Linked DNA regions of Homo sapiens. The protein of the gene in region 1 interacts with the protein of each later gene in a biochemical or structural test. Each region holds a gene or a part of one and is shown in the gene's direction. Other genes may lie near its edges. The genes, in order: GPBP1L1 and MFHAS1.

Region 1 (3,913 bases):
GAAGTTCTATTCCAGGGCTCCCAGGCAGCAGAATCTGCCCACAGAGTTCGGGTAAGTAGAGTGCAAGTACTGAAACAATCTCAGAATGATGGTGGTGAAGGAAGGTAAGAGACGGGATTTTAGGCCCAGTGTGACCTGAATTGCTTGCCATCTGTGGGACTTATGTTTTACTTTGCAAAACAGGGTTTATAAGGCCTATGGGGACACATCTCACTGCATTAGGGCCCTTTACTATCATTTAGAGGGGGAAAAAAGCCCAGTTCTTACATCCATTTTCTTTGCTGGGACCTATAAACTTCATTAAGGGTTAAAGAGCACAAGAGCAGGATTTTCACTTCCATGAAAGGTGTGGTGATAAGGGCCCTAGGCTTGGGGGTGGTTCGGAAAGTCAGATCATTTCTCCTACTGCCCTCGGCTTTATTTCTCGGCTATGTGACCTTGGGCAAGTCCCTTCTCTTATCTAGACTTGTTTCACAGGAAATGGCACCAGGCAATTTTAGTGCCCTTCCGTGTCTATGGATAAAACTGAAGACATGTAGTAGGAGATCTCAGGGGCCCACGCCGGCCAGTCCCTCCAATCCTCCGGATTCTAGGTAGTCTAGCTTCCTGGTTGCCAGCCATTACACGGTTTAGCTTTCCGTGCCGGATGGAGCCACAGCGAAGTCTTCCTTAATAGTAAGCGCTTTTAGTCGAGCTAGGCCTTCAGTTTTATTGCCTTCTCTGTCATGGCAGCGCCGCCCCTTCCAGTAGTGCGATACCCAATGAGACTTCAGGTAGGAGAAACGGCACTGTCGCAAGCGCAGGCTCTCGCCGGAATCCCGCCCTTCGCTTGGGCGGGGGAGTGACGCCTGCGCTCCAGGGGAACTACTACTCCCAGCGGGTAGCGCGGCCGACGCAGCCGCGCAGCCTCCGGGGCCAGGCCGTGTGGCCCGCTGGGGACTGGAGTCTCAACGACGCGCACACGAGAAGTAAGGAGCGGAAGGTGGGAAAGGGCCGGAAAACACACGTTCCTCCGAAACCGGTTTGCAAGTCCTTGTAGAGGTAGTTTCGGGACGCGCACTGGCCAAGGGGCGGGCTGTGGGAGGGTGAAGAAAAAAGGGATACACACATGCATACCCACCCACTCATTCATACGCGCCCAGGCCCTGGAAGTGGGCAAGGGGGTTAGAAGGGGCGTACTAAACTAGGCTTGTCCGTGCCTCAGGCGGCACGAGGAAAGGCAGAGGATTCAATTCTGTAGGGGGCAGAGGTGACCATGCGCCGCCTCAAGCGGCGAAGAAGGGAGCCGGGGGCGGGGCAGGGCATAACCGCCGTTCTGGAGGCCGAACGTTGGCAGCGTAGGGAACTGGCGTCCGGGAGGGTCGCCGGAGCAGTCCCTTGCGCATGCGCTTCTTCAGGTGGGCGTGTGTAAGGCGGGGTCGGACGGGGGATGGGAGGGCCGTGCTGCTGGTCGCTCCTCCTCCTCCACCCGCTCTGCCCCTCCTGGACCTTGTGGGCCGGGCAGCCATTTTGGGAAGAGCTTTGTTATGGTTGTGGACTAGCCGCCTCTGCCGGGTCGACAAGCTGGGGACGCGTCCTCAGACGCAGCGTCTAGTCCCTGGCCATAGCTCCGCCGCTGCCCGGTGAGTGGGAGTTTGGGAAACGGGGCAGTAGGAGATCCTGGAGTCGTTCTGGCGCGGGGCTCCGCCCGGTGCCTAACCAACGGGCTGTTAAAACTAGTTGAAAGAAGCTCTCACACAGGTGGTTGGGTATAGGTCCGACCCGAGAGGGGCGAGCGGAGCCCACGGGTCAAGTGGTTCGGATGCGGCACCCCCGCCTCCCCCGTGCATGGAGCTTTGCACGCGAGCGTCGCCGGGGCTCCGCGAAAGCGCTCCTACTTTAACTTCGGTCGTCGGGTCGGAACGCTCACCTGCGGCTCTTTGGCTCCTCTCCAGGCGATCCGGCTTGGTGCTCGTTGAGTGACTTGGCTTACGGGTTTTTTTCTTTCCTTCTTGAAATGAGAGCTAAGGGCTTTTGTTTTCCTTCAAAGGAAAACCTAAGGAGGAAAAAGTGTAAGTCAAATGTTGGATATCTGAGGGGAAAAAAGTTTTAACCCCCAGCTTTCCGGTTCTCTGTGGTAGCGAGGTGTTTTCGCTTAGATTGAGTCTATCCGATATCTACCAACCTCCTTTCCTTGGAGGGGCAGGGAAAGCTGGTCGATCCTGAAATGTTTTAAGTGTTATTTTTTTTCTGTTGTTTTAAATCTAGTTCTCCCCAACCCGTGAAATTCGAAAGACAGTCTGAATCCAAAATGGCTGTAGCTTGGGGAAGTGCCCTGCCCTTCGATTACTTAAATACATTAACGTTTAAAGATTTTAGTCCTTTCCCCTGTGGGGACATTAACTGAATCTTTTGATATTTTGGTTTTTTGCAGTTGGTGTCTCACCTTTAACTCTCCTTATGCTGGGTGAAAACAAAGGTGAGGCTCACAAAGTTGACTATTCCAAAAGTTTACATAAGAATGGGTGCGGTGCGGTGGTGTGTGTGTTTAATAGTTGCTTATAGTTTTGAAATTGTGCTGTGGTGTCAATTTTATCTGCCAACTTCGTGCTCTGAAGTTGGCTTGTCATATTTGTTGAAATATTTTTAACATTGACATTTATTGCTTACCAGAAAAATACAGTTAATAATAGTGGTTCATGTTTTAGTTTAGTAGTAAGTCGTGTTCTTGTGTAAATCTTATCCAAAAGTAAAGTGATTGGTAGTCACTCCTCATTAGACTTATATTTGTAATTTAGTAGACTGCTGATCTTTTCTAAGGTCTTTTTTATCCAATATTTGAAAGGAAATTAGGGTGCTATTAAGTTTGAGATATTTACTAGAATAGTGTAAGACATTTTAACAAGTGAAAACATACTTTAGGTATGGAGTACCTGATTGTCGTGCCCTTTTGAACAAGAGACTGTCTTTTGTTTGCTTTTTTTTTTTAATCGATAGATCCAGAAGTTTAAACAAAAAGTCATAGATTGGAAACCAAAACCAATAAATTTCAATATTTGGAAAGGTGCTGAAGCCTGTATCTATTTAAAAGATAAAAGAGTGAAATGCTAATTGTGAATGAGAACTTTGAAATTAATAGTAAAATAAACTCATCTTTCCTAGGGAGTCAGTTTTCAATGTACCTTTTGACGTTTTTTCAAATACAAAAGTTGGTTTTTGTTAATACCCCTAGGATTTTTTGTTGTTGTTGTTAAATTATTTTGGTGGTTTTACAGGAAAAATATTTAAAGTTTTTAATAGAAATTACAAGCTAGTTGCTTTGTGTTTTGTCACTGTTAACTACTAAACTGGAGTGAGATATTGATTTTTTGGGGGGGTACTCAGTGGTTTGTACATGTTAATATAAACATTCAGTTGATTCTGGATGGTGTCTTTATCAGAGCTCTTGATTTGTGGTGTGGGGGGAACTCTTGGGGAAACCTTTATTTTGAGCGAATTCAATTTACTAGATTGCTCATCAGTGGCTGTTAAAATGCTTAGCTGAGGAGGACACATTCAACCATTTAAATTTAGAATGATAAGAAATCTGGTGCACATTTCTGCTTGTAATTCATTTTTAATTTTGAGTTAAAGATAAGACACAATCGTGAATCATACTTCAGAAGATTGCATATCTTTATTTTATGGCTATAACTCTGATGTGCCAGGGACTGACTGCTGTTTAAAGTGCTTTGTATTTGTTACTTACTTTTTTTTCCTTCTTTTCTTTTCTTTTTCTTTTTTTTTTTTTTTTTTTGAGACGGAGTTTCGCTCTTGTTGCCCAGGCTGGAGTGCGGTGGCTTGATTTCTGTTCACTGCAACCTCCGCCTCCTGGGTTCAAGCGATTCACCTGTCTCAGCCTCCCGAGTAGCTGGTATTACAGGGGCTCACCACT
Region 2 (3,813 bases), on another chromosome or scaffold:
TTTCCAATGTCTCACGTGGCATCATCCCTGGATGTCTGTAGGCTTCACAGGTGTACAGCTGAATTTATTGCCTTCCTCCCGCAAAGTTCTTCCTCAGTCTGTGACCTGTCTTGGGTAACAGCGTAGCTTTGTACCATCGGCTCCAAGCTAGGAGTCCGTAAGCCTCATTGCCTTCCTCTGCTTTCTTCCCTATATGTAGTAATTCTCCAACACCTTTTATCCCATCTCATCTGTGTCGTGACATGAATGAATTTGACCCACATCTTCAGCTTCAGCCTCGGGCTTCCCTCTAGGGCCCAACCCCCCCAGCCACCACTTCCCCCGTCTCTGCCAAGGTTCCTGTGACTGAGTCTCAGCTGGCTGCCTGCTCTCTTATCTTTTTGTCCTTCAAACCGACAATAATTGTCTTTTAACATCAGACCTCATCACATCTCTCCCTGTTGAAAAGCCTTGGATGGCTTCCTGGTGATCACAGGCTCAAGTTCAAACTCCTGGCCGTGGCTCACAAGGCCCTGCACAATCAGACCCAGCCACTCTGCCAACACACAGATACTCCCTTACCATGGGAGGTCAGCCGTGGTGGGCCGTGGCTGCCTCTCAGTCCACTGGCTGGCTGCTGCCCTTCTCTCCTACCCAGTTAAGGCCCATTGGTCGCTGAGGCCAAGGTCATATGTCAGCTCCTCTGGGGAGCCTCCCGTAACCATCCTAACTGTAACCAGTCACTCTGTTCTTCATGTCTCCTCAATACTTTTTGTTTCTTTGTTTGAGACAGAGTCTTGGTCTGTCACCCAGGCTGGAGTGTATTGGCACAATCTTGGTTCACTGCACCCTCCGCCTCCTGGGTTCAAGCAATTATCCTGCCTCAGCCCCCCGAGTAGCTGGGACTACAGGCATGCACCACCACGCCTGGCTAATTTTTGCATTTTTAGTAGAGACAGGGTTTTGCCATGTTGGCCAGGCTGGTCTCAAACTCCTGACCTCAGGTGATCTGCCTGCCTCAGCCTTCCAAAGCAGTGGGATTACAGGCATGAGCTGCCGCACCTGGCTCTCCTCAGTACTTTTTATATACCTCTTTTGGTAATGATCTCATAGTATCTTGGCTACTTTTTACCTGTGGCTTTTTCATCACATCTGACCCATCATTCATTCAACAGATCTTTGTTGAGTAATTATCCTCTAGTAGGCATTGGGCCGGGTGTTGAGGATACATAAAGAACTAAATCAAATCCTGCCCTCCAGAACCTAATAGCCTCTTTGGAGAAGATAGGAATCAAAGCCATAACCAGGCAAACTTATCAGAGTCTAATTATAATTGAAACATGGTACCTGCCATGATAGGTGTATGAACAGAGTCTTGTAAGCACAGGGAAGAAAGAACTCTACCAGGAAGAATCAGGAAAAGTTCCAGGAAGTCGTACTTGAGATGGATCTTGAAGAAGGAGGACAAGTTTATGGAGCTAGAGAGGTGGGGAGAAACAGAGAAGGTTGGTGATTTTGATGGTTGTTTTCTCTAAGATCCCAAATGTGGAAAAAGGCATATAGATGTGAAACAATTTTCAAGCTGGTTGAACAGTGGGATTTTCCGTCTAGGTGTCCTTGATTAGGTATTCTTGTGTTTCTCAGTCTTACGTGTAGCCCGGGGAGCAGACTGTCTGCATTTCTGAAGGTCTGTCAGATTCAGTGGGAAAATGTTTATGTAACACATCTCCCACGTGAACCCAAAACTCACACCACCAAAGTTAGCTGCTAGGTTGAGACGTGTGTTTTTACACTGGCGTCCTCCTTACAGTTAGATTGATTATATTATTAGTTGAATTTGAGGCAGTTTTCAAAACCCTCTCTTCTGGGAGTTTACTATATTAATAGGCATTCAAAAAATTCTCGTGGCAGAGTGCCTTAGAAATGTGAAACTCTTTCCTAGGGCTCCAAATATCCAACTTCTCTTTGAGCTTTGGAGTCAGATCACCCTAGTGAAAGGCCTGGCTCTGTCACTCGCTAGTATGCACCCTTGGGGAAGTTATTTCATCTTTTGGAACCTTAGTTCCCTTCCTAGTAAGATGCTGAGGCCGGGCGCAGTGGCTCACACCTGTAATCCCAGTACTTTGGGAGGCCAAGGTGGGCGGATCATGAGGTCAGGAGATCAAGATCATCCTGGCTAACATGGTGAAACCCCATCTCTACTAAAAATGCAAAAAATTAGCCGCGTGTGGTGGCGGGCACATGTAGTCCTAGCTACTCGGGAGGCTGAGGCAGGAGAATGGCATGAACCCAGGAGGCGGAGCTTGCAGTGAGCCGAGATTGCGCCACTGCACTCCAGCCTGGGCAACAGAGCGAGACTCTGTCTCAAAAAAAAAAAAATAATAATAATACTGAGTAAGATGGAGCTTACATGGTGGGATTATTAGGAGTTGAAGATAAATAATGCACTAGAGTGAACAACCTAATTCCTGGCATGTAGTTAGTAAATGAGAGGTTTTTGGTTTTTTTGTTTTGTTTTGTTTTGTTTTGCTTTGCTTTGCTTTGTTTTGGTGATGTCGTTATTATCATGCTTGAATGAGCCCATGACTGAATCTTGTATGGACTGGAGAAGTGTTTAGGCAGATGCTGAATTATCAGTGTCCATGAAATCAGCGTCTCTCCTAATGAGAGATGGGGGATTGGAGGAAACGAATCGTAACTCCTTTTTCCTTTCCTTTCAATGTCTTTGTATATTTTATTAAAAGTTGCTAAAAAAAAAAAACCACTTTCAAAAACATCCCATCACATGTCATTGTAGGGAAGCAAAAATGAGAAAAACACTTGATATTTTTTCCTCTAACCATTTTATCGGAACTGAATCCCGCTTTATTTGCTGAGGCTGCAGTAGTTTATTCATTCTATATTGATCAGACTCCAGATTTGCGTGGACAACTTAACTTATAACATTTTAAGTAAAATCATGCATTTTAGGCAGACAGACATCTCACTTTTTAGTATATATTCCTTCTTCTAGAGGATTATTTGGTGTGTGTCTGCGTGTGACCGTGTGTGTTTATTGAAAGGAAACAGTTCCGTGTTTAGAGTTTTGGGTTGTTAGTTAGAGGTCTAGTTAAGCTATAAAATTACAGTGGAATAAGTGATGACAGCCAGTTAGTACAGTTCCCTCTTATAGCTGAACTGAGCTTAACACACCAACAGAAATGTTTGGCAAATAGACTGCTAAAATGACTCTTTCCTTTGTGGGGACATAAGTTGCCTGACATTTACATGTTTATAATGAGTCCTGGAAGTAGAAATGAAAATATGTGCAGAAAATAGATTTCTATCATCACTTCCTTTTCTTATTGAGGGTAGCATTGTCCAGTACGTTTTTGTCATCTCTGTGCTTTCTTGTTGTCCACCCATACAGGAAGAATGTTGGTGAAAAGCACAGAAACCAGTGACGTTTGTGGCTGTGGAATTTCCATGGAGAAAAGAGAGCATCTGAACACCTGGACCATCTTTTGCACCTGGCAGACCCTCTGCACTCACCCCAGCGTGTTCTGTGAACTTGAGTGACAACGCGTGCTTGCAGGGTGCTTTTTGGACGACTGGGGAAGAGGTGGGGAGGGGGTGGTGGGGGGAAGCATGGACGAGAACATGGAGCAAATGTTTTACAACCTGAACCTCAGAACTGTGATCCTCCAAGGAGCGCGCTACTTGAAGAAAAGAAAAAAAAAAAAAAAAAGTCGAATGGCTTCTCAGGGATTTTGTTTTCCGTGCACATATAAGCCATAGTTACAGTACAGGTGGCAGTATTTAGAGCACTCAGATTTCAGTTCTGTTAAATGTGAA

Evidence for each region.
Region 2: the proteins of GPBP1L1 (region 1) and MFHAS1 form a complex in vitro, tested with the Homo sapiens proteins (one large-scale study listed by BioGRID and IntAct).

What each region holds. Positions count from the first base shown.
Region 1 is NC_000001.11:45,684,121-45,688,033, reverse strand, and holds the start of GPBP1L1 (vasculin-like protein 1), read left to right. Parts: upstream 1-1,500; 5' UTR 1,501-1,622; intron 1,623-2,413; 5' UTR 2,414-2,458; intron 2,459-3,913. UniProt on the Homo sapiens protein: Possible transcription factor.
Region 2 is NC_000008.11:8,785,631-8,789,443, reverse strand, and holds part of MFHAS1 (malignant fibrous histiocytoma-amplified sequence 1), read left to right. Parts: intron 1-3,388; coding exon 3,389-3,422; 3' UTR 3,423-3,813. UniProt on the Homo sapiens protein: Probable GTP-binding protein. Functions in innate immunity and more specifically the inflammatory response as a regulator of the Toll-like receptor TLR2 and TLR4 signaling pathways.